6 separate regions of the Homo sapiens genome follow, and all the other regions are reported to be linked to region 3. The links are microRNA targets in miRTarBase. Many come from high-throughput screens and were not tested one by one. Region 3 holds a microRNA gene; each other region holds the end of a gene's coding sequence.
Evidence for each region. Region 3 holds the annotated microRNA hsa-miR-7110-3p (UCUCUCUCCCACUUCCCUGCAG, at 1,917-1,938, shown strand). A microRNA usually pairs through its seed, bases 2 to 8, with sites in the 3' UTR of a target mRNA and lowers its output. Matches are read on the target gene's strand: a 7mer-m8 pairs with bases 2 to 8, a 7mer-A1 pairs with bases 2 to 7 and ends in A, and an 8mer does both.

Region 1 (5,087 bases), not on the chromosome of region 3:
GTCAGCCAACCTCTCTGGGCCAGGGTGCTGTGTCCAAGGTACCCAGGGCAGAGAGTGCATTGAAACACTTCGGAGAAGTGGCCTGTGCAGGCCACCAGGTCAGGACTGTGAAGAAAAGAGCCAGTGCTCTCAACGGGGGCACTTTTACCCCCCAGGGGACATGTGGTAACATCTGGAGACATTTTTGGTGGTCTCATCTGAAGGAGTGCTAGTGGCATTTAGTAGGTGGAAGCTAGGGATGTTGCTAAACGTACTATAATGCACAGGGCAGCCCCATCCCCAACAGAGGATTCTGCAGCTCCAAAGCATCACCATTGCCAAGACCCTGAGCTCAAGGAACAGACTCAGACCTGCATTCTCTGTGACGTGGGATCTGGGGAGAGTTGTGTGCCTCCTCATCTGAAAGATGGGGATAATGAACCTTAGCCAGGCTGGGCGTGGTGGCTCATGCCTGTAATCCCAGCAGTTTGGGAGGCCAAGGCAGGCAGATCACCTGAGGCCGGGAGTTCAAGATCAGCCTGACCAACATAGTGAAACCCTGTCTCTACTAAAAATACAAAAATTAGCCGGGCGTGGTGGCGCGTGCCTGTAATCTCAGCTACTCAGGAGGCTGAGGCCAGAGAATCACTTAAACCCAGGAGGTGGAGGTTGTAGCGAGCTGAGATGACGCCACTGCACTCCAGCCTGATCGACAGAGCAAGACATTGTCTCAAAAAAAAAACAAAACAATTACTTGCGCTTCTCATCATACAACCTTATGAGACCCACTCCCCCAATACACAGGAAAACTGTTACCTTTCTAAAGGGCTCTTTGTTGAGCTTTTCTTAGTTTGAAACCTTCATGTTACTAAAGCATCTAGCATGGTGACTGGCATATAGTAGGTGCTCAATAAATATGAAAAAGAGAAAAGCAATACAGTAGTAAACAAAAACAAAACAAAAAAATAGCCTGGCCGGGTACGGTGGCCTGTAATCCCAGCACTTTGGGAGGCCAAGGCGGGCGGATCACAAGGTCAGGAGATCAAGACCAACCTGGCTAACATGGTGAAACCCTGTCTCTAATAAAAATATAAAAAAATTAGCCAGGCATGGTGGTGGGCACCTGTAGTCATAGCTGCTCAGGAGGCTGAGGCAGAAGAATGGCGTGAACCCGGGAGGCGGAGCTTGCAGTGAGCCAAGATCGCTGTCACTGCACTCCAGCCTGGGCAACAGGGTGAGACTCTGTCTCAGAAAAAAAAAAGAAAAAAAAAAAAGAAATAGCCCACTTTCCCCTCTTTGGCCAGTTTCTTCCATATCTCTGGGTCTCATTTTTTGCCTAGCCTTTCTATAAAGTTCTACACAGGCAGAGGGTAGTGATGTTAACAGAGGCTATCTTGAAAGCCCTCGAGGGGTCAGGGATAAGATTAAGGACAGGTAGCTAAGGAGATGGGAAGTTTTGCCAAATCCCAAGGGGCAGGCTCCCAGATCCATCCAGAAGTCCTGTGCTTACTGCCCTTGTGGGGCAGAAGCAAGCGTGGCGGCCGCACCAGGGGCTCAGCTCACTGGGAGGTTAGGTTTCCCAAAGAGCTGCACCAGCTGTGAACACTTACCCTACAGAAGCTGACTCAGAAAGACAGCAGCTTGGTGGTGGTGTGGGGTGGGAGGGGGGTGCAGTGAAGCCAGACCCCAGCCCCGAGAGTGCTGCCTTATCCTGTTCCTCCTAGAGCCCTTCCAATGTAACCAGCCTTGCAGAAGCTGCTGTGCAGGGACCAAGGGCATGATCCACCCTTGAACTTGCCATCCAACTGGGAGGGCCAGATGTACCCTTGAGATTTGATGAGTAAGAGACTGCTTCACAAAGTATGTGCAAGTGCTGGAACAGAGGGCAGGCGTACTCACAGCTGAGAAGCCAAGAGGCAGAACAGAGTGGGCCGGTGCCTAGGCAGACAGGCAAACATGAAGAGCTGCATTTTGTGAGTTCAAAATCCTTGCCATCTCGGACTACAGTTTCTGTCTCAAGCCTTTTGGAGCGGGGGGTGCCGACACCATCTTGTCCACACTGCTATAAGGACGAGGACACAGGCCAGCAGGGAGAGGCACCCTGCCTGGGCACTCCTGCCTTGTGGCTGGCCCTCTTCCCACTATGCCAACTTGCTTCCTAACATATGGTCTCCCCATCATTTCTACCAAGAAAGTGTGAAAAACGCCATCTTGGCACATGGAGAAACTGAGGCAGAAAGGAAGGCCTGGCTCAAGGCTGTGGTGACTTGGAGATTCCAATCAGGGATCCTCCCAGATTAGATGTCAGGGCAGGGGAGGGACCTGGGTGTGCTTTGGGCCTAGAGGAGGTAAAGGGACAAAGCAGGGCCTGCTCTTCTGGCAGGGGAGGCACAGATGCCCTTGGCTGACTTGCTTGGAGGCCGGTCCCTTCCCCAGGCTGCCTCCCTAATCCCCAGAGACACCCACCCTCCACACCAGAGAGTGATCTCTTTGCCGCGTTGCAGTTTACACATTTCATGTCCCATACCTTCAAGGTGTCCGCCTCGAGCTGAGGTGTAACACCCCCACATCCCACCTCCCCCCTCTCTCCCTTCCCTCCCCTCCAGAATGAGCTCATGCCACACTGCCTGGTCTTGGTGCCTAAGGAAACACTTCCCAGAAGCATTTCACCTTCATAAAAGCTCAGGGAGGTGGGCCAGAGTCCCTTCTCCACACGCCCTAGAAGCCAGCCTTGGGATTAACAGAGAAGACCCTGGGGACAGGCTCACCCTTCCTTTCCCTTCCCCTCCCCACTGCCAGAGAGATTGCATCTCCTCAATGGCCGCCACATGTGGTCCCCACTTCCTGCTTCCTCAGAAGCAATGCCTGGCTCCCACAGCCCAGCCAGAGCAGCCCCTTTTCTTGCTCTCACATCAGCTGCCTTGCAGACATCTGTACCCCTCCCCCAGGTGCTGGTAGTGTCCTAGGGTTTTTTAGAAGGAAAGAAAGAGGATGAGAGTTTGGTTCAGAGGTCAGAGGGCAAGAAAGTCCGCTGCATGGCTCTTCCACAGGGCTTGGATCCCCCATCGCCCTGCCGGCAGGGCCGGCTCACAGAGTCTGCAGTTTGGCAATTTCTCCCAGGTCCATTCACAAACTCTCCTCGGCCCTCTCCAGTCACCCAAGTGGGGAAGGCAGAATGGAATTGCTTACTGGGCCTCCCAGCTCAGCCTCATGGCCATTAGGCTGACCTGCTCTGGCGAGGCACAGGCTCCTAAAAATGGCCTGACTCTCGCAGGAGGCAAAGGCCAGTCTGGCCAAAGTGTAACCTGGAAGCCCTGGTTGGTGAAGGGGTCCGAGGACCCCGTTAGAGTTGAGGGAGAAAAGGCAAATGCTCCTGTCCTCAGGGCCCAGCCTCCCACACCCCCAATCCCCTCTCAGCCAAGCTCCCTCCCTGCCTTGGGCTGTAAACCAAAGTTTACTGACTGAGGGAAGGAGCAGTCCCAGGTAAAGGCCCTGTAAGGACCCCCACATAGGCCCGCAGCAGGCAGCAGCCAAGGAGGTCTCAACCACCCATGCCGAGACTGCCAGGACGGCACTGGGCAGGGAAAAAGAGACCTCAGTGCGAGCGCTCTCAGAAAAGCAGTGTCAAATTCTGCCCCCACTGCGGGAGGCCGCAGGATCTTACCCTCATTCAAGTCTAGTTCAGGAGCCTGCAGGGATGGGGCCAGGAAGGCCACTGCAGCCAGTGCCCCTGCAGTTCCAGCTGCACCTTACATCTGGAGTTCAGAGGCTAGAGAAAGACTGGAACTTGGGATCCCAGGCTCAGGGCCCTGCCCTCTTCCCTTTTATTCCACCAATCTCTTGGGTGGGGAGTGGCGTGGGGAACCAGAAGCACCAGGAAGCCTGGGAAAGGAGAAGCCACTGCAGCTGCCCCAGACACCCCACCCCATAAAGGTTTAAAGAATGGGCCCTCACCCCATCTGGCAATCAGCGGAGGGGGTGGGGCACAAAGGCGAGCAGACACTGGTCAAGCTTCCACTTCATGTAAACAAGGAGGCCGTGGCACTGACCCCTGCCCAGCCACCGACAGTCCGGTGGAGGCGTGTGACTGAGATGCTTCGGACCCTCTCATTTGGGATCCAGCGTCCCTGAGGCCAGGACGGAGGCTGCAGGGCAGAAGGCCAGTTGGCGTCTGATGTGCAAACTGGTGCAGTGTGCGACCTGCGCTCTCCACAGCACAGGGCAGGGCAGGCAGGCATCCACACGTCCTGCCCACCACCATCCCGCAGCTCAGGAAATCACACAGTTGCTAGGCTTGGCAGAACTGGGACTTGTTTTACCTGCAGAGGCAAGGGACAGAGGCGGGGAAGGATGTAAGTGAAACGCTTGGTGGATTCAGCTTCAGTTCCTACCCTGTGTGCTGTCCACATCTCCAGTTGAGGGGCTGGGGTCACTGTCTCCCTCCCAAGCTGCTGATCTGGAAACCAAGTCAATAGGGCACCCGGGAAAGTAGAAGGGAAGATTCTGCCTGTCTCAGCAGCCTCGGCAGGAGCCCCACTGGGTGGGACATCAAGGTGACAGCCATCTCCTGACCAAAGAGGGGTCGGGGAAGGATCCAGGCTGCAGAATCAATGACAACAACCATCAAGTCCAAAGTCTTGGCTGCTCTGTCTACAGACTAGCCATTCTTTTGTTTCTTTACTTTTCTAATAAACTTGCTTTCACACACACACACACACACACACACACACACACACACACACACACACACACACGTCTAGCCAAGAGGCCGCTCACTACCAGCTAGTACATGCAGCTCCACCGCCTGCAAAGTAAGACTGCGGTCCTTCTCTCTGGTTCCCCTCCCGGGCTGCCGCATTCTACCGCTGAGGTGCCCACAGCTCCCAGAGCCAGCCAGCGACAGTGCCAGAACCTGGCCTTCCCGGTCCAGTTCCAGCTCCTTCCGCCACAGGCCGCCTAGGCTGGAAGAAGGAAAGCTGGCGCCTCAGGAAAGGCTGGCGCTGGCCAAGAGCTGCCACCGTGGGGTGGATCACACTGCTTAGGACGCGCCTTTGAAGGGAGGACAGAGAGGAACGCGCTGCCTGTAGGGAGGGAAGGGGGAGAGAAAG
Region 2 (5,087 bases), not on the chromosome of region 3:
GGCTTTGGTAGACATTATCCATTAGGTGTTAATGACCAGGAAAGCTTGTAGTCTTACTCTTCTAGGGACATTTGTTTTTTAACAGGCAAAGTGAAAACAAATGACTTTCTAAATGTAGAATTTGGGGCCTCAAGGAGCTGATGGATTTTTATTTCTGCGGGAGGAAGGGTGGGATGTCTTAACATCCATGAAATCACATTCCGGCTCCATGCTGAGCACTACGCATTTCCATCGGATATGGAACTAGCTGCTGTCTAACCTGCAGGTAACTGCAGCATCTCGGCACAGGCACTTTCAGCAGAGCTTCTGCCCTCTGTCTACCATCTTTTGTAGCCAGTAGAATGCACACAGTCATTCAGACATGACTGTGTGTGCTGGCATCCTGTGCTCACTGCCATGCTGATGCTCACATGCTATGCCTGCCACAACTTCCTGCCCATGCTCCCCAGGTCTCCTCCTACCCCGCAGTGTCCTGTGTGCCCCTGCACATGCCTGTGGCTTCCCGGGCTTCTGACCACATCCACACCATCTTTGTGCCTCCTGAGAACACAGACCTGTACACACAAATGAGTAATCTCCCTGTTCTTGGCCCTTCCGCAGATCCTTGGACCTCTGGACCACGATGACCAGTGTGGGAAGCAGAAACTGGCCTACAAACTAGAACAAGTCATAACCCTCATGAGCTTAGACAGCTGAGAACCGTCCTTCCAGGGCCGCCCTGGAGGGGGACACACCAAGCCGTGCCTCAGTCTAGATTATCATCTTTACCAAGTGCAAGTTCCGACTGGCATCAGCAGCATCCCCTGAGCAGCGCTGTTTCTCTCTCTTTCTCTCTGCCTCTTTCCGTTTCTCCCTCCTTCCTGGATCTCTTCTCTTCCAGTTGCTCTGCCAACACGATTGGACCAAGCCACTGACCCTCAGTTAGTCCAAGAATGGCCAGGCCCATGGCAAGGGAGCTGACCAGAAGATGTCAGAGAGGCCTCTGTCTCCCAGGTGCTCCTGACCCTGTGCATGTCAGCAGCAGGGTGCAAATAACGAATGAGGAGCCAGGGACAGGGGACATTTCTGTGCTGCTACTTCACCTTCCACTTTGGCAGCCCCTGCTTTGGTCTGAGCCTTGGCCTAGGGAAGAGGCAAGGAAGGACTTCAGTATTATCTTTACTGGGAAGACATCACCTGGCTCTCCCTTCCCACAGTTCCATCTCCAGTGGTTCAGCCAGTGGTCTGATCGCTTTGCAGCTGTGAGAAGAAAGGCTACACCTCCTGCATGTGGCTGGAGCAGGGCATGTGTGGGCAGCTGGGAGGTGCTCCTTGAGGCTCCTTCTCCCCCACTGGGCTGGTGTCCAGAGGCTTCCTGTCCTTTTCCAGGTCTCCAGAGGGACCTGCCTGCCCTGCCTGCTCCCCCGCCAGTAGAAAGCCAGGCAGGAGAAAGAATAGCAATTACATTCCACCATGGAGATGCTCCTGACCTTTTCATCTGAATCCTAGTAGCAGAAATGTAACACAGGGGGAGAAAAGGAAAGAGAGTTGCATCTACCCTGGAAGCAGAATTTGTTTTCCATTTACCCTCAAATTCAAATGAGTCACAATCATAGTCATAGGTCTAGTCCACTACCAGAGCCCTGAGTGCTGTCAAGAGAAAGCATCTATCTCCACCCTCCTTTGTCAACCTTCATCAAGGGTCAACGTGAAATGCAGAGTGCATCTAGGAGATTCTACCTCCAGCCATCTCCATGGCTCCATCCCCATCATCCTTCCTGAGAACTCCATAGACGGCTGGGGCCAACAGCCTAGTCCCTGTTCCCTCTGCAGAATCCGGTGCCATTGCTATGCAGATGACTTTGTCACTGGGCTGTCCAGACCTCTTTGGGAATGATTTCATCAACATCTCAGCTGTCTCTCATCATTCTCCTTCCTCATCTCTTCAGCAGTCATCCTTGAAAGAAACAGACTTAAGCAAAGCCTCACGGAGACAGCCCAAAATGCCAGCCAACCTCAGCCTCCAGCTTGTCAGATCTGGGAGGGACAAAGAGTCGAGCTGATGGGCCTGGCTGGAATTAAGAAGAGGGACATACAAATGACCTTGGCCTTGGCATCCATCTCCCCATCTGTTCTTACATCTACAGATGCACGATTTTAGCCAGGCAGGCAAATGTGTGCCTAGAAATTGATACTAGGTAAGCAGAGGCTATGGGGAGAGATGGTCTAATGGAGGGTTCTAGGAACCTTTCATCCTAAGGAGACCTTAGGTGCTGTCTGGTGCAGTCTCCCATCCTAAGCAGGAGTCTCTGTTGGCACCTCTGCTCTGGAGTTGTTCACCACTATGGGAGACAAGGAGAAACATCTTAGGTGAGGTTGAGGAGAAGGATTCACAGTCTTGCCTTCACTCCCCAAACATCAGACATCATTCCTTGTCACCCACTCAGAATGAGCCCCCCTTGGGGAAGAAACCACACCATTTCCAGCAAAGTCCATGGAGCATCCGGTACTTTTAAGAACACTTGCCCCTTTGGATATGAATATGTGCACATGTGTGTGAGCACATGTATGTGTGTGTGTGTGTCTGCCCCAGGTGTAGGCGGAAAGCTCAAAAGGATTTCTTGTCCTTTGTAGGAGGATTTTTGAAGTGTTCCCCTTCTCTTTCCCCTTGCTCATCCATTCATCCTGCAGCTTCAGGACATTTCAACACTTACTTGCTTTCTATGCTGAGAGCTGGTGGGTGGAAGGAGAGGGCGCTTGTCCATAGGAAATCAGGGTGGTCGCCTGCCGAGGCCTGGACCTTGGAACAGGGCATCATGTGACATCGCAGAGGACAGATGGTGGAAAAGACATGAGCAACCTAATGGGAAGAGGAAAATGGGAAACAATGCATTGGAAGAGGAAGAAAAAAAATAAATAACCAAAGGTTTTGGCAAGTGCAGTACCAGGTGGAGAAGCTTGACTTTTCTATCCTTGATCATTTTATTCCCTCCCAAGAAGTCAGTCACAGGACCTGGAAGGCCAGAAAGGGTACATGTGGGAGACGGTCTGAGGAAGTACCTCGGTCACTACAATATTTTTGCACATATAAAGGGTTGGGGAGGAAAGAGACACAAACGTATTTAACACAGATTTGCTGGATGGAAGCTGCGTGTGTGAACGTGTGTATGAGTGAGTGCATTTTGATTTTTTTTTTTTTTTTTTGCACAGTTAAGAGAAAAAATCAAACAAGCAGAAAAAAAAAAGAAAAAAGACTTATCACGGTTCTGCTGAAGCTTTTATTTTTTACTGGATGATGATTATTGTTATTGTTACTTTGGCGGTACAGGACTTTATTTTATTCCATGTTTTTGTTATAAGAAAAATTTCAAACACCTCAGAGAAATAGAAAGGTTAGGAAGAAAGAGGAGACAAGGACAGACAAATTTTCTGGCTGTCCCCATTTCTCCTGGGGGAGGGGTTTGGGGCTGGTTTGACTTTAATTGGTGGGTGGGTTGTTTCTGCCGCTCTGTTTGCTGCAGTCCCCGTGGCCTGCTTGGGGACTGAGAAATTTGAGCCAGGTATCCAGAGCCACAGCCCATCTTGCTTATAAAAATTATCTTCTGCTGTTTGTTTTCCATTTCTTCCGTTTGGATTCTTGGTGCACGTGTGATATGGTATTTAAAAGCAAAGACAAGCAACATTGTCAAAAAGCTGTCCTTGCCCCCCATCCCCCACCCAAATCTTTTTTCCAAACTCCCCCAGGGATCTTCCTTACCCCACTGGCAGAGCAAACATCCAGGGGCTGTCCATGTGGCTTGCGGGCTCCCAGAGAAAGGAATTGGGCCAACTTTGTCCTGTGGGATGGAGGCCCCTTCACGGCCTCCCTCGAGGCAAAGTTAATTTGTAGGGTCACCATTATGTTGAGTCATGAGCAGACAGAAGGAGAGAAAAGGCCATCTTCCTTACCTTCCCCTCCAACTTATCCCGTACCCTCCCAGGGAAAATGGTACCAGACTGAGCCATCAAAATCACTGACAAAGTTTAGGTGGGAATTTTTTTTGCATGTTGGAGAGAGAAGGGCTTAAGGTAGCAGGGAAGAAGGGGGCTTTGTGGGGTCCTAAATTTTAAGGAATAAGTAGAGGAAGACAAGAAACAGAGTGGTAGGCTGGTCATTTCTCCTGGCCACAAGTCCCCCCAGATGCAGCTTTTACCCATTCTTTGTCCTTCCCCATAAGGAGAGACCCTGACATTTCTTGGTAGCTGCAAATAGTGCCACTAAGTGAAGGTGGCCATCATGCCAGTTACTTCCTCAGGAAAATATTTTCTTGCCTTCTTCTTTCAGTATGGTTTTAAATTTGGGAACAGTGGATAACCCAAGTGTCCCACAGGCCAAGGTACATTCCAATGGCAGCATGATCCCTGCACCCAAAGCCAGCCCCTAAAGCCTACCCCTTGTGCACCCGCAGCCTGGTAAGTGAGCTTGGCTGCTTGTGAGGAGCTACAAGTGAAAGAGAAGTTATTTTAAATAAATCCCAAAGTTTGAGGCAGACTGTCCAGGACTGTTCCCAGGAAGAAGCAGGAGTTACCCACAGGAAAAGTCTCTGACCTGGTCCCCTCAGGCCCAGCTACCTGCGCCCACCAGCAGTGAAGGTTGATGTACTGGCCCAGCATCTCCACCTCCCCCATGCAACCAGGTCCCTGGTACCGTGTCTCCCGTTGCATGTCTGGCTTCTGCCTGTGCTCCTCCTGCCACGAGCATCCTCCCTGTCCCTCCTCATTCCACCGTGTCTCTCCTGCACACATAGCCTCTGTCCCAGGGCGATTTATCCACTTGAGTACAGGAGCTGCTCAGACCTCTCAGCCCAGCCCTCTGTGACTGCCCCAGCCCCATCCTACCCCACCCAAAGCTGCCTTCCTGGCTGTAGGAGCTCCCTCGTCTAGCCAAGGCCCTATGGGTCCCCATCCGAGGATCCACAAGCAATGACTTCCCAAATGACCTCCACTGCAAGAAGAATCCTTACCACTGTTTCCAGAGCCGTGAACGATGCTGTGATGGGCCCAGGTCTCAGCACCACCCTCTGTGACCTAAAAAGAAAAGCTCAATTTCCATCTGTCTTCTTTCCCAG
Region 3 (5,087 bases):
AATAACCATCAACCAAAGAACTGTGTGAATCATGGTTATTCAATAATTTTAAATTATCTTATTGAATCACCCTCTTTTAATTTCTTCCAAGCATTCATTGAGCTCTATCTAAAATGATCTAATTTGTCATACAGCAGACGCTTGATAACTGGACTTTGTCAAGGTCGACGTTGTCCCCCAGCATCTAGAACAGGCTTGGCACACGGCAGGGTTTCAGTGTGTGTTGCCTGGTAGGAGGACTCATTCTCATGGGAATCTGCCCCATCTTCCATAACACCTCTGTACTGGGTATGGCCATTGAGGACCCCTTCTCGGGCTTCCCTGGTGCATGACCCTCAACCGGAAACAAGTTCCCCATTTCTGCTTTATACTGTCTTCCTTTGAAAAAACAACAAATGATGAGGAAAAGCTACCCAGCATGTGGAATTTGCTAGATGGTCAAGAAGAGGCCAGTGGCCAATGTGGGAACCACTTTCTGACCAAACATTCTGATGGCTTTACTCATGCGGGGCTCCTCCAGTTTCCAGATGTGCTTCCCTGGTCTCCTCCTCTTCCAGTCTTGGCTCAGATGGCGAATCATACAGAGCGCCTTTGCCCCACTCACCTGGCACCTGGACCACCTCCCTCATCCCTCACATCACATCATGTTGGAATTGTCCCTTTATCCAACCCCTGCCCAGACACTGAGCCCCTAAGTGGGGACAGAGCTTGTATATGGGGTTGGAAGAAGTGACTGTAATAGCAGCTGACATTTCCTGACCATGAATCTGGTGCCAGGTTCTGTGCTCACTGGCCTCACTGGAATTCTCTTATTCAGTCTTCACAATATCCTGATAGCCTAGATACTATTATTATCCCCATTTTACAGCTGAAAAAAATGAGGCACCAAGAGGCTGAGTTATTTTCCTTAAGTCTTACTGTCCAGGCAAACCAAGAGTGCACTTGGGGAACTTGACTTGAAAGCTCTTGCCCTTAACCTTGGCACTATACTGTCCCCCCAAGCTAATGTTCCGGAAATATTAGTGGAGAAATGATTAAATCCTACAGTCCCTTACAGATAGCACCACAGAACCTGTGGTGTTTACAAATGCTTTCAAGTCATCATTTCCTTTACGATCATCATACTCTTGATTTTAAAGGACAGTCTAAAGGCACTCCAGGCCGAGTCCCCTAACCTTACCCATCTGGAAATTGAAAACAAGCACCATCAGTCTCCAAGGAGTCCTGAGCTGGGGGTGCTTTGGTTCAGTTCCTACCTGCCACTGAGGAGAAAAATCAGAGTGGGCCTGTGACGTGGACTAGATGTGCAATCTGTGTTGTGGGGTCCAGGCCTCAGCCTGGGGACACCCTGTGCCAACTCTCTTTACCTTGGCTCCTAGATTGCCTGTGCCGCTGTTGACTGTGTCAAAGACAAGAACCAAGACCTGTGCCAGCAGGAGGCGGTCAAGGGCTACCCCACTTTCCACTACTACCACTATGGGAAGTTCGCAGAAAAGTATGACAGCGACCGCACAGTAAGTGGGGGAGAGGCGTCTGCCCAGAGCTCTCTCTCTGCTGATGGGCAGGGAAACTTCCACTGAGGAGGGGCAGCACTGGGCAGCATCCCAGAAACTGCAGAAGTCAGCTGGAACACTGCACCGAGAGGCCCAGGCCCTGGGCCTGGCTGAGGCTTGACATTGTTGGAGGAGAGTCCCAAGGGGTTGCCACAGATGTCCTGTCCCCAGAGGCAGGCTGGACTCCAGATGCCGAGGGTTTTCTCACTTGCTGGTCGGGGCTGGTGCAAGCCACGCAGACCCTCTCCACCTTGCAGAAGTCTGCCCACCTCTCCCTGTCATAGGAGTGACCCCCTGGAGGGGCTGGGGGTGTGGGGAGAGAGAGTGCACAGCCAGCTCAGGGATTAAAGCTCTTTCTCTCTCTCTCTCTCCCACTTCCCTGCAGGAATTGGGATTTACCAATTATATTCGAGCCCTCCGGGAGGGAGACCATGAAAGACTAGGGAAAAAGAAGGAAGAGTTATAATTCCTGCCTCAGAAAAAGCTTTTCCATTACACTGTGAATGATACCTGTTTTGTTGTTTCTGAATTTCCACATGTTCTGAAGACAAATTTTTTATAGCCGCTTATGGCCATTTTGTACAATTTTGAAATAAAATTAAACCATTTATTTGGTGGTATGGTTTATTTTCGTGGAGCCTGTACTAAAAAAGGTGGATACTCACATCCTCCTCATTCCACCACCTCTGCTGGGAGGTACAGAGCAGTGCTCCAGTGCCCCATCTGCATGGAGGTGACTCCTGAGGGTGTCGGCCCCCTGTCAGTCATTTGAGAGCAGAACAGGGAAACTGGACCGCAGAATATCCTGCTGGAAAATGACAAGCTAATGAGAGGAAATACGTCAAGATGATCAATGACTTTGGGAGGCTGAGGTGGGAGGATCACTTGAAGCCAGGTGTTCAAGACCAGCCTGGGAAACATTATGAGACCTCATGTCTACAGAAAATAAAGTTGCTGGGCATAGGGGTACATGCCTATAGTCCCAGCTACTTGTAAGGCTGGGAAGGGAAGATTTCTTGAGCCCAGGAGTTCAAGGCTGCAATGATCTATGATCGCATGACTACTCCAGCCTAGCTAGAAAGCAAGACCTGTCTCAAAAATAGAAAAAGAAAAAGAAAGAAAAAAACAAAAGATGATCAGGGAAATTGGGATGCTGAAGCAAATGGTAACCAAACACTAGCTTCTTCTGGATCATTGCGGTTTCAGCATTGGTGTGTTTCCTCTGTGTGTGTTTTCCTGGAACTTACTTAGGTATTTATCTTTCTCCAGCTATTTGTCTTCTCTTCGTCTCTCCATTCCCTCCCCAATCTCCCTTTAAAGAAAATTAAGTTGCCGCTTCAGGGGCATGAATGGAGTGGGGGAAGGGGGGCTCTGTGCCAGCTGCTTGCTGTGCACCCTGGCTGGAAGGGATGGTGTGTTCTCGAGGTGCAGATATTAGATCTGCTCACCAGCCCCCACCACCAACCATAATAACCCCAAATCTTTACGCCACGTTTTCCATGGATGGGTGCCTTGCTCGGCCTCCTGCCTGTGTACATCTCCTTTTTGACCCACCTTTCTGGTGAGTCCTCCTGCTTTCTGCATTCCTGCGTGACTGACACCCCAGCCCTGTGCCCAGCGGTGCAGGCAGAGCCTGAGCACAGCAGTAACATGTTTTGTCTGCTTGGTGGTATTTCTCCATGGACAGCAGAGTGGCCTTGTGCTAGTATCTTGTCTTTAGTTATAAGTAGCGGTCCTAGAGTTGGATTCCTCCAGTAGTTCAGGGGGGCGTTGCTTAAGCTGCAGTACTTGGAAGCACGCTCTGGTGGCCTTGATGGGGACTTGGCCTGCAGGAACAGCCCTCCTTTCCTGGACCCAGCTCCCTTCCTCCTGGCCTAAGTCCTTCCTGCTGATGAATCTGCTGAGAGGAGGACAGAGCCTCCAAGTTCTTCACAGCTGTTTTGACGATGGTGCCACTGTGGGTGGTTTCATTAAGGGAAATCAAGGTTTTGAGAGCCCTTGTTCTGTGCAGTTCTCCAACTTTCCAATTGACCCTCCTGCCAGTTCAGCTCTTCTCTTTTCCCCTAAGCACCCACTTCCTTGGCAGTGGCCCCTGGACTTCACCCAAGGATTGGATATGAAAGACAGAAGCATACATTTAGACATCATTGAAACACAATTATTGAGTCCCTTCCTGTTGGGGACCATGAACATCTTACAAGGTGTCATTTAATCCTGACACAGGTGTTTACCATTCTAGCATGTGTGTGTCTGGACATGGGTCTCCTTCGTTATTTGGAGTATTTGTAGGGGGAACATATTTGCTTGTGTTTTTCAAAAAAGTTTTTTGTTTGTTTGTTTTTGGGTTTTTTTTACTGCACCTTTTCAATAATAATCTCACAAGAGCCACTTCCTGGCTGAGGACCACTAGTGCCCACCTGCGAGGCACAGGGCTTACTTTCTGGCCATTCCACATCCTCAGAGTTCAGATTTTCCTGGCTTAGCTTCTATTTGAAGACTTAAAAACATGAAATATTGTCAAATATAGATTTAAAGAAATTTTTTAACACATCATGAAATGGAATCCTCTTCACATCCCTATTTATTGACTTTGGGCATGACCTCAGCAAATTTCGTCGCAGCTCTGGGCAGCTCCCCCTGCGGACAGAACTCTCTTCCTCCACTCGCCCCCTGGCATCCGGGTTAGTTCTACTCCCAGTCACCATGCTTGGTTCTTTGTGGTTTCACTGATGTTTAGTGCAGACCTCCTCCCTCTGCCCCACTGGAGGGCTTGCTATCACCCTCCTCTGTTCGCCTGGATCCTGCGTTGCAGGCTGATTTCTCTGCAGGAAGTACGTGAGTTAGGGGAGAACTGATCCCCATCTTTATTCTGGTGCCCCTTGCCCAGCAGTGAGTCCCCATCACCACCTAACTGGAGCCTTCCGAGCAGGACCCTGTCTCTCTTACCTTCCTCATGCTGCTCCCTCCCCTTCTAGAGGTGTTTGGCTTCCAGGAGCTGTTCTGCGCCGGGCACGGGAAGGTGATGCTTCCAGGTTCAGAAGCTGGTTTTCTCCACCGCAACGTAAGAAGATGTGGAATCTCATCTGGAAAGCATCAGGCCCTCTTAGGAAGGCAAAGCCTATGTCCAGGGGTTACATCACCTGCCCACATCACATGGAATAACACAGGCACCAGCCCTGCCCGCAGGAGGCTCCCAGTTTGAGAGTGAGTGCACATTGGTGCTCAGAACCAAACTCTGTGCATTGTGCTCTTACTGTTTCCCATTCTTTTATTGTTGACTAGAAGAAGGAAGCTGATATTCTTAAGCTATCTATCAAAACCAAATTATGCTTATGGTCCCACCAAATATATGTCACCTCCAAAATCTTCTATTTTAGGCCAGTGTTATCCAATAGCCATTAGCCACATATGAGTATTGAGTACTTGAAATTTGGCTACTGCAGCTGAGTGAAGGTGTGTATGTCTATGCCTTTTTATATTGTGGTAAAATATACATAGCACACAATTTACCATTTTAATCATTTTTAAAGGTAC
Region 4 (5,087 bases), not on the chromosome of region 3:
GCTCCTCCGAGGTGGACGAACTCATCCACAAAGCGGACGAGGTCACGCTGAGCGAGGCAGGGTCCACGGCCGGGGCGGCAGAGACCCGGGGGGCTGTGGAGGGGGCAGCCCGGACCACGCCCTCCCGGCGGGAGATCACCGGTGTGCAGGCACAGCCAGGCGAGGCCACGTCCGGCCCGCCGGGGATCCAGCCCGGCCAGGAGCCCCCGGTCACAATGATCTTCATGGGTTACCAGAACGTGGAGGATGAGGCCGAGACCAAGAAGGTGCTGGGCCTTCAAGATACCATCACGGCGGAGCTGGTGGTCATCGAAGACGCGGCTGAGCCCAAGGAGCCTGCACCACCCAACGGCAGTGCTGCCGAGCCTCCCACGGAGGCCGCCTCCAGGGAAGAGAATCAGGCGGGGCCCGAGGCCACCACCAGCGACCCCCAGGACCTCGACATGAAGAAGCACCGTTGTAAATGCTGCTCCATCATGTGAGCCGGCCCCCGAGACCCCGGCCCCCACCCCACACCACAGACACCCACCAGCCCGGCCCCTCCCGGCGCCTGCCCACCCTCCACCCACAGCCTCACGGGTCCAGGACTTGGCGTGTTGTTACATGTTCCTTCCGAGTTTTCTTTCGCTGGAAAGAGGGACAGGGGCCCCCACCCGTCACCACGCCCCAACACTCCCCCCGAACCAGAGCCGTGCACTTGTGCCTGGTAGGAGAGAGACAGGACAGACCCGCTTTTCCCGAGACAAGGACCCCCCATGTCACGGCAGCTTCACAGACGCGGCTCGCGCCCACCGGGGTCCTGGCGGGTGGGACCCGCAGCCTCCACGCGGCCCAGGCCAGCCTGCCACCCTCTGGGCCTCCTACCTGTGCCTTTCTCTGAGGGGACACCCCGCCAGAGAGGGCCCCGGGAGCCGGGGGTGGGTACTGAGGCCTGCTCAGGCCCTGGAAGTGAGGCTCTATGGGGTTCCCTGGCCAAGGCGCTGGCCCCCCAATCTCAGGCAGTTGGGGTGAGGCCGTGCCTCTTTGGGGGCTAAAGGTCTTGGGTGGAGGACAGGCCCCTCTGCTGTGCCCCTATGCCCTGTGTGGGCCCAACCAGTGGACAATGGAGTCTGGGGGAGGGGGAACCCCGGGGACATGCCCCCACCCGGGAGGGGCCGGTAACCCCTGGGCTATCTTCTAGACGGGGCGAACCAGGGGTCATTGACCTGCCCCCTGCACAGGGCAGGGACCGAGTGAGCCACTCCTTGTCCCGAGCTCCCGCCCCCACTGGGCCCTCCTTCCTCCTGGTGCTAATTTGGGGACCCCAGGGGCCGCCCCCGGCCTCTTCTCCATCCTGCTTGGACCAGGGTCCTGGGTCTTCCCAACCATACCCCGAGATCAGGCCCCACCTGCCAGCTCTACTGGGCTTGGAGCACGTCCGGGCAGTGGAGGGAGGGACACAGCCTGGGACAGGAAGCCTCTTGGGTTGGAGCAGGAGACCCTCATTTGCCACCCAGACCAATGTGAGCCTGCCCCCAGCCCCCTCTCATTGGAAGTGGCAAGGGGCTTCCCTCCTGGGGGCAGCTACACTCGTCCCCAGAGGCACATTCGTGCACATTCTCACAGACACCGTCTCACACGTTGGCTTTGGACAACCAGGCCCCAACTTGGTCCCTGCCCTAGGGACCTCCAGCCTGGTGCCCAGTGCTCAGGCCACCTCCTGGTCCAGTCACCACCTGCAGCCTCGGCAGGGCAGGTACAGGGGCCACCTCGGATGGGAGCCTGGGTCCCTGCCTCCGCTCTGCCCCTGGGTGGCTGGGAGGAGAGGCCCTCTCGGGGGTGACCTGGGCGTCAGCCGTGGAACCCCCTCCTCCTCCCTGGAGTCTGCCTGAGTCCCTCGAGCCGCGAGCCTTCGCTGAAGTGCCCTTGCTATAACCCCCTCTGCTTCTGGTGTGTGACGAGGCCCCCGATGTTCTTGATTTTCCCAGAGAAGCAAATAAACAGCGTGAACAGCCCCAGTTCCTGGAGTTCTTGCCTTTCAACCTGGCGAGGAAGGCGTGGCCAGGCCAGGGGGTGGGGCCTGCCGGCCTTTGAGCCATTAAAGGGAGGCTGAGCAGGGTTGCGGTGTGCTGGCTTCACCTGCCTGCACCCGCTCACCCTGAGCGCCTTGGGGTGGTGGGAGGCGCTGGAATCCCCACTGTGCAGGTAAGGCCTGGCTGTAAGGGGCTGCTGTGGGGGGGCAGGACTGGCTTCCCGGGGGGCCCTCGGGTTCTGCGGCCGCCCCGTCCTGTCCTTTGTTCCTCCCTTTGCTGGGCTCACAGCCCCTGGGTGATGACAGAGGGTCCCCTGGACACCCACAAGCTCTGTAGAGAAGCCGGCCCCTGGGAAATACACAGGAGGCCTGGGGAGGAGGTGTCTGTAGAGACCAGTGTCATGCTCACGGGAAGGTGCTGCCCCGCCAGCCCCACTCTCTCACGCTGTAGTCTTGGAGAAGTCGCTGCCTCCTCTGGGCCTCAGTTTTCCCATCTGTAAAATAAGCCTTCGTGGCCGGGCACGGTGTTTCACACCTGCAATCCTAGTACTTTGGGAGGCCGAGGTGGGCGGATCACAAGGTCAAGAGATCGATACCATCCTGGCCAACATACTGAAACCCTGTCTCTACTAAAAATACAAAAACTTAGCCGGGCGTGGTGGCTCACGCCTGTAATCCTAGCTATTCAGGAGGCTGAGGCAGGAGAATCGCTTGAACCTGGGAGGCGGAGGCTGCAGTGAGCTGAGATCGTGCCACTGCACTCCAACCTGGGCGACAGAGCGAGACTCTGTCTCAAATAAAATAAAATAGGCCTTCGGAGCCCTGAGTGGGAGGCCAGCCTCAGCCTGGGCGTGGGACGTCTCCACAGTGCCCCCAGCTCATGGGCGATCCAGCCTCCACCCTGCTGGGGCCTCAGTTTTCCCCGATGAGGTGGTGAGTGTGGTGGAGAGCACTGCTGAGGGAACTCAGGTTCCAATTCCAGCCTAAACCCCCGCCATTCCTGAGGCGCGATTTTAAGCTTTCCGTACCTCCGTTTCCCTATCTACAAGCCAGGGAGAAAAGGACGTGAAGGGGGTGGCGGGAGGCGGCGGTGGGAGGCGCCGTGAGGCCGCGCACCCTGAGCTTTCACACACCCAGCAGCGTTAGGTGCCACGCTGTCCTTTGGGGGCCCTTTATCCAGATTTGTCCTTAAACACCCCCATCTTGGCCAGGCGCCGTGGCTCGCGCCTGTAATCCCAGCACTTTGGGAGGCTGAGGCGGGGGCATCACCTGAGGTCAGGAGTTCGAGACCAGCCTGGCTAACGTGGCAAAACCCTGTCTCTACTAAAAATACAAAAATAGCTGGGCGTGGTGGCTCATGCCAGTAATCCCAGCTACTAGGGAAGCTGAGGCAGGAGAATTGCTTGAACAGGGGAGGTTGCCGTGAGCCGAGATCGTGCCACTGCACTCCAGCCTGGGTGACAAGAGCGAGACTCCGTCTCAAAAAAAAAACACAAAAAAAGCACCCCCCTCCTGAGCAGCCCTGCTGGATTCGTAGCTGGGGGCCTTTTTACTCGAAGAAGAGACTGAGGTTCAGAGGGGCTCCACAAGCAGCCCCTCTGGCGTAGGTCAGGACAGAGCCCCAGCCTGGGGAACTGAAGTCCCTGCCCCCTCAGCTGTGTTCCCTGCCCTCATAGACGGCGCTAGGCCCAGTGGCCCGACTTCCCCACAGATGCTGGGCTCCCCACAGTCCCAGCAAGGCCTCTGCACCTTGACTAAGAATCCAGGAGGACCATGGGCGCCTGAGGGCCTCTGCGTCCCCATCTCTCGGGGTGGCCTGGGTCTTTTGACGGCCTCGTGCGGTTCTTTTTTTTTTTTTTTTTTTTTTTTTTTTGAGTTGGAGTTTTGCTCTTGTCGCCCAGGCTGGAGTGCAGTGGTGTGATCTCGGCTCACTGCAACCTCCAACTCCTGGGTTCAAGTGATTCTTCTGCCTCAGCCTCCCAAGTAGCTGGGATTATAATAGCGTGCCACCATACCCCGCTAAATTTTGTATTTTTAGTAGAGACGGGGTTTCGCCATGTTGGCCAGGCTGGTCTCGAACTCCTGGCCTCAAGTGATCCGCCCGCCTCGGCCTCCCAAAGTGCTGGGATTACAGGTGTGAGCCACCAAGTCCGGCCCCCTCGTATGGGTTTTTATGTGGATGGGGCCTAGGGAATTCCTCCCAGCAGCCCTGAGGGAGCCCGGGCGTGATGTTCCCCCACGTCCCGGAGGAGAAAACAGGGCTAAGAGAGGTCAGGTGGGATCAGAACCCAGGCCACACCAAACCCCCCCGAGTCTGCCAAACCTGGTTTATGCAAGAAGGGGGCCATCTAGGGGAGTTGCCCCAAGGGGTGGGCTGGGCCAGAAGGCACGGACGGGATTGGGACTCAGCCCCTCCGGCCCCCCAGGAGACACAGGCCACTGTGCACGCTGAGCTGCTGTGTGGCCCTGGACACCTGCTGACCCTCTCTGAGCGGTGCTGAGAGGCGGTGGGAGGGCCAGGCAGCCAAGGGAGGTTTCGGCTGAGTTCTGGCTCCTCGGGGCCACCTGGAGGCCCTGGGGGTGGAGGGGCAGCCGGCAGCGGGCACGGTGCCCGCCCTTGCCCAGCCTGGTATCCTCTTTCTCCCTCCTCCTCCTCTGGACTTTGTTTCCTGATCCCAGGTGGGGCTGGGGGGAGGGGGCACACCTGCCTCCCCTGGGTGGGGCCTCTGTTCCCTGGCAACCTGGCGGGCAGGGCGGAGCTGGGAGGCCTCTGTGCCCATCGAGGAGTCAGAGTGGAGGCTGCAGACTGTGGAGCCGGGAGCCGGCAGGTGAGGCTGGGGGCGCCCCGGGCCGGGCCGGGCGGGGATCCTGTGTGGGGCGGTTGGATCCACATTTGGCGTGGGAGCGTCATGTGTCTGTGGGCGGGGTCTGCTTGCCTGGCGGCACTTGGGATCCAGGGAGGCCCCCTGCCCCACCCCGTCACCCTCGGAGCCTCCCTGAGGCACCTTTCCCTCTGCCCCCGCTAGGTACTCTGGGGCCTCAAGGGCACCCACTGGGAGAGCAGAGAGGCCCTTGT
Region 5 (5,080 bases), not on the chromosome of region 3:
TTTTCAATGTCATAGTGTGTGGAAATACTACTCCCTTTCCTCCATGTCTATCTTCTTAGATGTTCTGTCTTTGTCATCATCTGCTCCAGCACATACTTTGGACTCCTTTACAGGTGACCTTCCCCCCTCCCTCCTCAATAGGTGTCCTCAGTGTTTTCTAAGCATTTAAAACTGAATTTGACAAGTGGCTAAAAACTTAGTCTGAGACTTGTACTTAGTATATGGTTAATTATAGAAACAACAACTATTTTAAACAGTTACTCTGTTGACTGCTCTTTATGACTACACTTGTATGCCAGGAGGCAGCAGCCTATACACCATTAGACTCTTTACAAGCAACCAACGAACCAATTGCAGTGGTTGCAGTTGTCACAGTAGTCTTGCCTGGGCCAGACTGGGCTGGGCTGTGGGAAGCATTCCCCTTCAGGGGAGTTTCCACAGCTCAGCCCAGGCTCCAGTCTGGCTAGAGAGCATCCAGCCCATTCCTTGCCTCAGTGCCACCTTTTTCTGGGCAAGTAGCCAAGAAGTGACTTTATATGCAGTGAGTACTTCAGATAAACTTACAGCTACAGCTGCCGAAGAGTGGAGAAGGTTGACCACCATTTATTTAATTCTCTAGTGTAAAAACAATTGAGAGCAGTGTGCGTGAGCCCACAGACACCTGTGTTTCTGGGAGCTCTGGCAGTGGCGGATTCATAGGCACTTGGGCTGCACTTTGAATGACACACTTGGCTTTATTAGATTCACTAGTTTTTAAAAAATTGTTGTTCGTTTCTTTTCATTAAAGGTTTAATCAGACAGATCAGACAGCATAATTTTGTATTTAATGACAGAAACGTTGGTACATTTCTTCATGAATGAGCTTGCATTCTGAAGCAAGAGCCTACAAAAGGCACTTGTTATAAATGAAAGTTCTGGCTCTAGAGGCCAGTACTCTGGAGTTTCAGAGCAGCCAGTGATTGTTCCAGTCAGTGATGCCTAGTTATATAGAGGAGGAGTACACTGTGCACTCTTCTAGGTGTAAGGGTATGCAACTTTGGATCTTAAAATTCTGTACACATACACACTTTATATATATGTATGTATGTATGAAAACATGAAATTAGTTTGTCAAATATGTGTGTGTTTAGTATTTTAGCTTAGTGCAACTATTTCCACATTATTTATTAAATTGATCTAAGACACTTTCTTGTTGACACCTTGAATATTAATGTTCAAGGGTGCAATGTGTATTCCTTTAGATTGTTAAAGCTTAATTACTATGATTTGTAGTAAATTAACTTTTAAAATGTATTTGAGCCCTTCTGTAGTGTCGTAGGGCTCTTACAGGGTGGGAAAGATTTTAATTTTCCAGTTGCTAATTGAACAGTATGGCCTCATTATATATTTTGATTTATAGGAGTTTGTGTCTGGGTCCCAGGAACATCTACTGGGGATGACTGTTAGGCAGCTTGTGATGATGTTTTTTAAAAAACCTAAGTAACTTGGGGAGACAGAGCATTTCAAACCCATATAGACACCTATCATACCTGTATATCCCCTAATACATGGAACATAAATTTCATTTCAGCTTTATGCATTAATGTATTGAAGAGGCAGGCTTTTTTTCCAGTAATAATACTGTACATCTAAGGTTGCTATTCAGTAAAACTAATAGAAGAGATAATTATTGAATACCTTGGAATATGTAGTGAGAAGAGGCCAAATTTTTCATGTTTGTGAGCATGTCTTTCAGATACTCGCTAATGGAGAAATTCACTTTAGACCTCTAGACCCCAAAACCAAGTTAGCAAGTGACAAAAAGTAAATTATTAATAGTCTGTAAAGTGGATGCTGGTCTTACAAAGCTCCTATTCACATGAACCCTATGGTTAATTAGAAAGAACTTGCTGTCTCCAGAAAAGGGAATGGAAATAATAACTATGTATCTTCTTTTCATGTAATTTGGTCACAGAATAAGGTATTCAAGTTAAGTCTAATCCAAGTCTTAGAGATCTTTAAGTATCCTAAAATAGCAGCCTAAGTAGTCATCATGTAAAGAAGTTGACTTTCAGGAATGTCAGCATTGACCTCTCCTTGCCACTGTTACTCAGCTAAACATAACTTGCCATTCTTAAAAATAAAAAAGCTCCCACCCAGAAACTCTAGTGATACTCAGTTTTGACCTCTTACTGCTTCCATGTGGGACTTCTTTTCAGCTTTTAACCATTGGAATTTTCTACCTGCTATGTTCCTCTCTGGAAAATATCAATTTGGAAATGCTGCCTTTCAAATCAATGCCATGATCATCCATATTGTTGAGTTTGTTGTTGGTGTTCCAGAAGTGTCCCCATTTTACAACTTTATGCACACACCTGGCAAATCATTAACATGAGCATTCAACAGTACTGGGATGGGTGGGGTGGGGGTAGGGGGCTCACCAACAGAACTGGCCAGTTGACATTGCCTGAAAAGGCACCACCTTTAAGGGCCAGTTGTGGGGTTGGTAAGCACAGTTATGAAAATTTCTATCTAGCCTCCGTTTTGAATGGTTTTAAGAAATTTTGTATATGGAGGATGGAAATGCTTATATATTTATTGAAAATCCTTTTATTTGAAATTAAAATTATTTGGTATATAATTGTTTGATATTTGGGGAGGGTTTTGGAGGGGAGATAATGTCACTGATAAATTAAAAGCCTGTTGATTTTGCAGAAAGGTACTGTTAGTGACTGATAAGGATGCCTTTGTTTTGTACATGAACCAAATCTTTGTTTTACATTTCTTTTATCCAAAATATTTAGGCATCTGACATTTTCAACCAGAATTTCAATTATATACTGTGATTTTTATTTGTTGCAATACATTACAATTTCAGAGGTACTTTGGGGCTCAAAAGCTAGGATTTCTAAGTCAGTATGTGCATTTCACACGATAAAGCTGTTAATGGTGAGCAAAGTATTATATACTAACTAGATTTTTCCACATCTGTATAGTATATTATATGTATTTTGTGGTATTGAGAGTATAGAAAGTTTAGAGTGTCAAACATGCGTTTAATGTGTATTTTTAAACAAATTTATGGCAATTAAAATATTTGGAGACAAGGGTATCACATTTCAATTTGTAAAGATCTTTTTAACTCTACTGTGTCATTAAGATGCTTTGTACAATGCCAAACCATAGTTGGAGAAACTAAGTTTAATAAATATCAAATAGATTTTCTGTATTAAAGTTACTGAACACTGTACTCTTTATATTTCTTCAACTCTGAGCCCTTTTCATGCAATTCCTGTTTTGTGTCTTAAGGTCCGTTACTACTCTTTAAAAGTCTGTTCCCACCAGCTGAGGTCTCATTTTCTGATTACAGAAATTCTGAACTTGCTGGCCATGGGTCCTTGTGCATATGTCAAAATTCACCTTGTCCCAACAGAAATCTTAAATCTCTTTTGGTGCTTTTGGTGGCTTGGGCTTTCATTGCTTTATTAAACTAGATTTTTCTCTCTGTTCTGCCTTATCTTCAGACAGCCATAGACAAACCTGGGTGCTTCATTAGATGGCAAGTGCTTGACCATCTTTTTTTTTTTTTTTTTTTTTTGAGACAGAGTCTCTCTATGTCACCCAGGCTGGGGTGCAGTGGCATGATCTTGGCTCACTGCAACCTCCACCTCCCAGGTTCAAGTGATTCTCCTGCCTCAGCCTCCCAAGCTTGACCACCTTTGACACCTCCCTGAAGAGTATGGAGTGAAGGGATCCAGGGCCACAGCTTAGGAACTTGCTGAAGTTGATTACGTAGCTATTGATTATGTAGCTCTCACTACACTTTCCAGATTGAGAAGTTAACACATTATTGGGCAATGCTGTTTTTTTCTTTAGTATACAAAATGAATCCTTCTTTCCCTCAAAAGCTTGAATTCCAGACTGCTAAAATTTCAATTTGAGACATTTAATAGTATCCATAGAAAAATAAACTCTAAATTGACAAGTTTAGTTATGCTTATCCATATATCAACATTCTAAGAAGAAATGGAGACCAATTTAAAGCGTACATCTGCCTTTAAATATTAAAAATACAAGATTGCTTCACTTGGGTGTCTCCAGCCAAAATGCAGTTAATCAATATTCCATAGAACGGAGCATTGTCGGAGGTGACTGCTGTCCTTTCTTTCCCTGGTATGTACATCATTCCTGGGCCACACTTAAGGAACAGCGTCTTTTTCTAGGGGAAAAGAAAGGGTAGTTTTTTAAGACTGGGTCTAGGAATGACCAGGGCCACCTATGCTGCATTTCCTTCCTCTTTGCTTGATCTGTCCAGTCTCAGGAAAGACTGAAGAATGGAAAGGCACCACTCTTTCATGGTACCCACATAGAGCTGTTCTTGGCTCCTAACTCCTAAGGGATTTTCCATGGAGCTCCCAGTCTCAGTCTAGAACTCCTCCATCCCAGCTTTATTCTTAGGTTCATGTGTCCCCTTGTCACTCCTCTGCCCAGCTTCCCAGGGCTCTCTGGCCCAACCCTGCTCCCAGGTTCAGGGAGTACCTGCATAGCCTTGTGATACACTCAGAATCATCCCGGCAGGAGGCTCCAATAGGCCTGAGGGAAACCCCTCTCCAAAATGGGGTCATTCTCCGTGGCCTTCTCTTTGCCGAACTCACTTCTGGTATTGGGGAGCCATCTATCTGTAAGGGCAAAGACATTCAGATATGAAAGTGTTGACACCCTGCTGCACACCTTGGAAGAGTGATCATTCCATTCCGCAGATGCTGTAGACTCAGAACAGAGGAACCATTCCTCAGGACTGAATCTAGCTTTCAAGTTCCACCACCACTATCATCTCCACACTCCACACACACACATAAGTATCCTTCCCTCCTTACCTGGCCCAACAGCAACAGGAAGATCATGAGGACTGCACAAAGTTTGAGGTGCCACATCTTGACAGGGGGAGGATGTTGGAGCCTGAAAGCCAGGGACAGTTCCTACTTCCTTTTATAGACTGACATCAACTCTTGCATTGTTACTGGGTGAGATGGGGGCAAAGTTTATATTTGTAATCAGAATCAATTTAATAAGTTAATGTCTACCGGAGGAATGTGCTCAA
Region 6 (5,000 bases), not on the chromosome of region 3:
TAGACCATTTTGTTGTGCCCTTTCTGGCTTCTTCTCATCTCTCCATTCATACATATCTATATCTATATCTATATATATATATAATCCCTATAAGGCAAATGTTACTTTCTAATCAATACATTTTTCCTTGCAAAATGAAAACTTTAAAAAAAAATAGAGGAAGGCACTTTGTAAAATGTGCACAAATCTGTTTCTTTCTTGTCTACTCTAAGGAGATAGGGAAGTTGCTAAAGGCAGGGCCAAGTCTTTCTGCAAATGATGGGCAGTGGTGGACACTTGAGGAAAGAGAAAGCCAGAGTTTCCCCAGAGCTAAACTGCAACTTGGAATGCAGGGACCTCTGGTTGCTCAATAACTCATAGGCTTTTCACATTCAGCTGGGTCATCACAAGACACAGAGCAAAACTGCCCAGATCTTGTACAGGCAGTAAAGGATTGACCCCTTCAGACCAAGCCAGTTAAAGTGAGTCTTTTGTACTTAAGTGACTACCAGGATTGGTCTTAGGCACTTAGGAAAATGTAGAGTCTGTTATATAGCTAATAAATGTAGGATCTGTTAAATATCTGACACAGCTGATATAACTTGTGCTTATACACATCTGTTAGAATGAATTGGAACATCTTGCTGTTCAGGTTGTAAGCTACACAAATCACCCGTTGCCTAGATTCAGTTTCCATGCGCCTTAAAACTTGAATATTTAGGTATTTGTTTATAAAAATACAACTTATTATAACTCAGAGTGTAAGGATACATGAGCCAACTGTGCAATGGTTGTTAACAATCTAGGATGGTGCAAGGAAAAAAATTAACAGCCAAATATAAGAAAAGAGATTTGGGGCTGTTGGATTCAGCAAGGAATGAGCATGGCTTGATTCAGTAAAAGATCATTTTTCTAAAGATTAGTGCCTCATTCAATATGTCTCTTCTCAATCTCCTGCCTCTTTTTTTAAATGCCTCTTTCTACACATATATTTGCACATAATCTTAGAATATGATTCTGTACACATTTCACTTATAAAATACTTGTGCAATATATTAAGACCAACTGGAATGGACGGTTTAAAAAGCAAAGTATAAAGAGCACATCACTGAAGATTACTTTGTATTTCTATGATGAAGAGCAATTTTTTGTTAGATTAGGATAGAAGGCATTGGTTGGGATTATCTTTGCAGAAAAATATTCAGTGAGTCATGGAATCAAGGAGTCAGTTTCAAAGGACCTTAGAGGTTATCTGGTCCAACATCTTCAGAGGAAACTGAGGCTTAGAGGGGGGAATTAATCTCTCCAAGGCAAAGCAGTTAGGACCAGAATCTAGGTCTCTTCACCGCCCCCCTGCCCCACATGTATCCTTCCATTTGAACAGCTGTCTCCTTGATAGACCACAAAAAAACTTTTTGTTAGACCACAAAAAAGCTTAATTCAGATAAACAGTGCTAATTGATCATAGAATTAAAGTCTTGGCCTAATGAGTGGCTAATTGTTTTTTAGGGATTTAATTCAAGTCCTTAGCTGTCACATTTTTTCATACGTATTATACAAAATTATATGTCAAAAGCAGATTACTTTTATGTTTAGGTTTTCAGACTATAAGAGTGACTGATACATATCTTCTCTATTCTTAGAGAATAGACTATGTTAGGAAAGATTTAGTCTGCATTGGCTTTGAGGGTGACTGTCTTTGGTTAATGTCTCTCAAGGTAGATTATATTCCTTGGCCTTTCAGAAGTTGTGCGTAGTTTTGCAGGTCATTCTTTTATGTGAATTCATATAAGATTCAGCATAATGTGAATCTTAAACTACTGATATGTTTCTTTTTTTGCCTGCTTACATGCAGTGTTGTTCATTGCAAGTCAAACAGACTTGATCTGTCCTTTCCAAAAGAGGATTGTTACTATGAACTAAAATAACCTTTAGTGGAAATGGTTGTCTAGAACAATGCTTCTCAAACTTCAGTGTGCAATTGAATCATTTGGGGATCTTAGTAAAATGCAGATTCTGATGCTTAAGATTCTGCAAATGGAATTTTCAAACACTGCCCAGGTGATGCCTATGCAGTTGGTTCTCAGACAGTTAAAGTATCGAGGATTTAGGGGACTGAATGAGCTTGGACAACTTTCCCACACGCTTCCCTTACTCACATGATATTGTTTATATATTAGAAAAATGGAGCTTCGTATCTATTGCTTTTGCCATTCTCAAAACATTGGCAATGTGTTCACTTTCAAACAGGAGGGGGACCTCTGAGTCCAGTTGCTATCAATATGGGATAGTTGGGGTGGAATATTTAACTCCCAGAGGTGAGCTCAAGTTCTCTATGTCCAGCTAGTAAATGGACATATAGAATGGATTTACCATCAAGTGAAGGGAAAAATAGAGAGGGGCTGCTAGATGAGTCATGGATGCGCCCTTTAAAATGAGGATCCAAGCTTTGACTTCTTTCAGGAAGCCTGGCACTGGAATTGACCGGGAGATTCTCATTACCTTACTCTGACCTTTGGAGCTATTCCCATTGCTCTGGGAAGCAAATACCTAGTTTCCCAGAACTTTTATTTGGACACTTCTGATATGAGCCATTTCTGCCTCTGCCAAGATTTTGCAATTGAATTTACTTCAGAGAGACACTAACTCCTGGCTTTGCTTAAAATTTTTTTGTGGCCCAAGATTTCTCACAAAAGCAAAACCTCTCTCTTTTAAACAGCTGTTAGAAATCGTCGCCCTCCCTTTTTATGGTAGCTTTAGGAAGATTCACCCATTGATGAACAGGAGTCCCAGAGGAGCCTGAAACTCAAAGGAGAAATAATTTCTGGTCTGTGGAGAATCCTAAATCCCTAGGTTGGTGGTGGTGGTAGCAGTTGTTTAAAGTGTCCTGGAGATCAAAAGAATCAGATAAACTATACTATATTGCGTTGAAAACTGAATTTTGTCATTCACTTCATATTTCACAGTGGGCTTTGGGTTGGTATGGCATTTTACTCCACAAACGGGAACTTTATATACTACTATGTACTGTAAATACACATTATAACCTTGCAGCAGAAAATACTGTACCCACTGAATACATAAACAGCTGTACTGGGAAAATAGAAAATAGTCTTTTATTTTACCTAAGTCATAGAAAAATAGTCTTCAAAAATACAGTTAAACTTATGGGTTTATATTAAAGTAGAATTTGTATGTACAGTAAGGCAGTAATTCCATTAGCATCCTGCTGTGGTTTTCTTTTCAAGTTAGTCTTTAGGGAATTTTTTTTTAACTAAGGAAAGACTAAGGTGTATAATAAATTATCTATCATGCTGAAATGAAGGAGGAAAACATCCTAAAGGGATTCACATGAAATTCATTTGCCCCTTGTGTAAGAACATTTTTATTTCCAAACTATATTTTATAGAAGCTTTAGAGTAGAATTTAGGGGGAAAATCCATGCTTAACATATCTAAACTATTTTAAGAAAAAATTGGAGGCATTATTTCTTACTTGCATATCAGCAATGTGTCAGTAAGGTATAGGAACTTATGTAAACAATTTGTTCTGGAATGCATTCTTTCTTTAAATGGTTATATTTGGGTAATCCTAATAAAATGGACGAGGAGTGTAAAGGTTATGCAGTTGTTTTTCAAAAGCAATTTTCATGGCATTTTCCTATGTGGAAAATTTTCTTTTGTCATCTTTCTATGGTAAACAATTTTGACAATTTCATTTCCGTCTGTCCCATGCCAAATCATGAAAGCCTTTTCCAGAGGATATACCTATTGGCATTGTCCCTCAAGAATACTAAGCAGTGTGCTTTTATTTCATTGAACACATAGTTTTATAACTAACAGCAAAAAGTAAATCTACAAATCACAGTTAGGAAACATAATGATTTGTTCTGGAATCAGCTGCTGGAGAAAGAGGCAAGTGGTTAAAAATGGAGCATGAAAGGAGCTGGGAGCTTTAGTAGTGTCAGTCTGACTACATTCTTGAGCATTTCACGTACTCTGTAGTGTTACCTGAAGAAAAATCACATTTTAACCAATCATTCCATTAGTCAAGCTATCAGTGAAAGGAGTGTGTAAAACATGCGGGATCCAGGTAATCCAAACCACCCAGCTGGAGCCTGCACTTGCTTGATGTTGCAGTGAAGTTGGCCAGGGCTTTCTCAGCTTGATTCTGTTCAAGTGATGGTGGGGCCTCTTTGGCTGATTCTTCAAAGCAAGCCACGTTTTTAGCATGTGGATCTGGCACCAACACCAGGATGTTGTTATCCATGACCCCGGACACCTTGGCATACTCCTTATTGTTCTCAGGAGTCCCGGGCTTCTTGGGCTTGCCGCTGTTCTCTCTCTGTTTTGGTAGCAATGATAATGCACCATCTTTGTTGACCTTGTGAATCTCCACATAATCCAAGGGTTTAGCGGAGCCAAAGGGGGTTTTCTCCTGGGGCAGCAGCCAGGGCGTATCCTGGTCAGTCTCAGAATGGAAGCTTTCTACCTCCCTCTGCTGGGTTGCCTTTCCCTCTTCTCTAGACTTAATGGTTTGAGAGGATTTTAAAGCATCTTTACCTGCTTCATTCAACAGAGTGGCCGGTGCACCTGCAGGGCCCACAGCCAGCTCACACACATCAGTAATATTGTGGTAAGAGGATCTGGGGTTGTGCTGGCTGGGCTGTGGTAAGGGCCATGTTGAACATTTGGATCCACCAGCATGAAAATAGGGGATTTTGCCTTCCATGCTTATGCACTGGGGGTCCCAGGTGTGGGTTGTTTCAGGATTCTCTGGCTTCTCAATGACCTCAGGATCATAGAATGTGGAGGGATTGGCCTGGGGTTCCTCACACTTTTCAGACAAAAGGGAAGGGCTGTCACAGCTCCCCCGGCCTGAGTCAGTGTCAGGATCCAGGTATGTGGGTTTCATACCTTGACTTGGGTGTTCTTTTGAATGGACTGACATTAGATGCTGGTCCTCACTATCATCTACTTCTAAATACTCCACCAGCAAGTCCTCATAGTCAGAAGTGGGAG

Region 1: miRTarBase lists FAM83F as a target of hsa-miR-7110-3p. Seed matches in the 3' UTR shown: 7mer-m8 at 2,562-2,568.
Region 2: the mRNA of PLXNA4 is a reported target of hsa-miR-7110-3p. Seed matches in the 3' UTR shown: 8mer at 4,030-4,037.
Region 4: miRTarBase lists PALM as a target of hsa-miR-7110-3p. Seed matches in the 3' UTR shown: 8mer at 711-718.
Region 5: the mRNA of LEAP2 is a reported target of hsa-miR-7110-3p. Seed matches in the 3' UTR shown: 7mer-A1 at 3,587-3,593.
Region 6: the mRNA of PRLR is a reported target of hsa-miR-7110-3p. Seed matches in the 3' UTR shown: 7mer-A1 at 2,683-2,689 and 7mer-m8 at 2,682-2,688.

Annotation. Positions count from the first base shown.
Region 1 is chr22:40,028,727-40,033,813 of GRCh38, reverse strand. FAM83F (family with sequence similarity 83 member F) reads right to left here. Exons shown (of 5, transcript NM_138435.4): 5 at 1-4,298. The coding sequence ends at 4,249. Among named protein-coding and RNA genes, the nearest start is that of TNRC6B-DT, 13 kb to the left of the region's middle. RefSeq lists an enhancer at 2,574-3,093.
Region 2 is chr7:132,126,088-132,131,174 of GRCh38, reverse strand. It overlaps PLXNA4 (plexin A4), which reads left to right. Exons shown (of 32, transcript NM_020911.2): 32 at 601-5,087. The coding sequence ends at 696. Among named protein-coding and RNA genes, the nearest start is that of PLXNA4-AS2, 130 kb to the left of the region's middle.
Region 3 is chr3:123,159,942-123,165,028 of GRCh38, forward strand. MIR7110 (microRNA 7110) reads left to right here and starts at 1,853; the gene lies at 1,853-1,938. PDIA5 (protein disulfide isomerase family A member 5) reads left to right here. Exons shown (of 17, transcript NM_006810.4): 16 at 1,380-1,514; 17 at 1,939-2,163. The coding sequence ends at 2,019.
Region 4 is chr19:746,333-751,419 of GRCh38, forward strand. It overlaps PALM (paralemmin), which reads left to right. Exons shown (of 9, transcript NM_002579.3): 9 at 1-1,997. The coding sequence ends at 482. It overlaps MISP (mitotic spindle positioning), which reads left to right and starts at 4,780. Exons shown (of 5, transcript NM_173481.4): 1 at 4,780-4,839.
Region 5 is chr5:132,873,528-132,878,607 of GRCh38, reverse strand. LEAP2 (liver enriched antimicrobial peptide 2) reads right to left here and starts at 4,940. Exons shown (of 3, transcript NM_052971.3): 1 at 4,857-4,940; 2 at 4,519-4,658; 3 at 3,562-4,198. The coding sequence starts at 4,913. The coding sequence ends at 4,162. It overlaps AFF4 (ALF transcription elongation factor 4), which reads left to right. Exons shown (of 21, transcript NM_014423.4): 21 at 1-3,213.
Region 6 is chr5:35,061,054-35,066,053 of GRCh38, forward strand. PRLR (prolactin receptor) reads right to left here. Exons shown (of 10, transcript NM_000949.7): 10 at 1-5,000. The coding sequence ends at 4,036. Among named protein-coding and RNA genes, the nearest start is that of AGXT2, 16 kb to the left of the region's middle.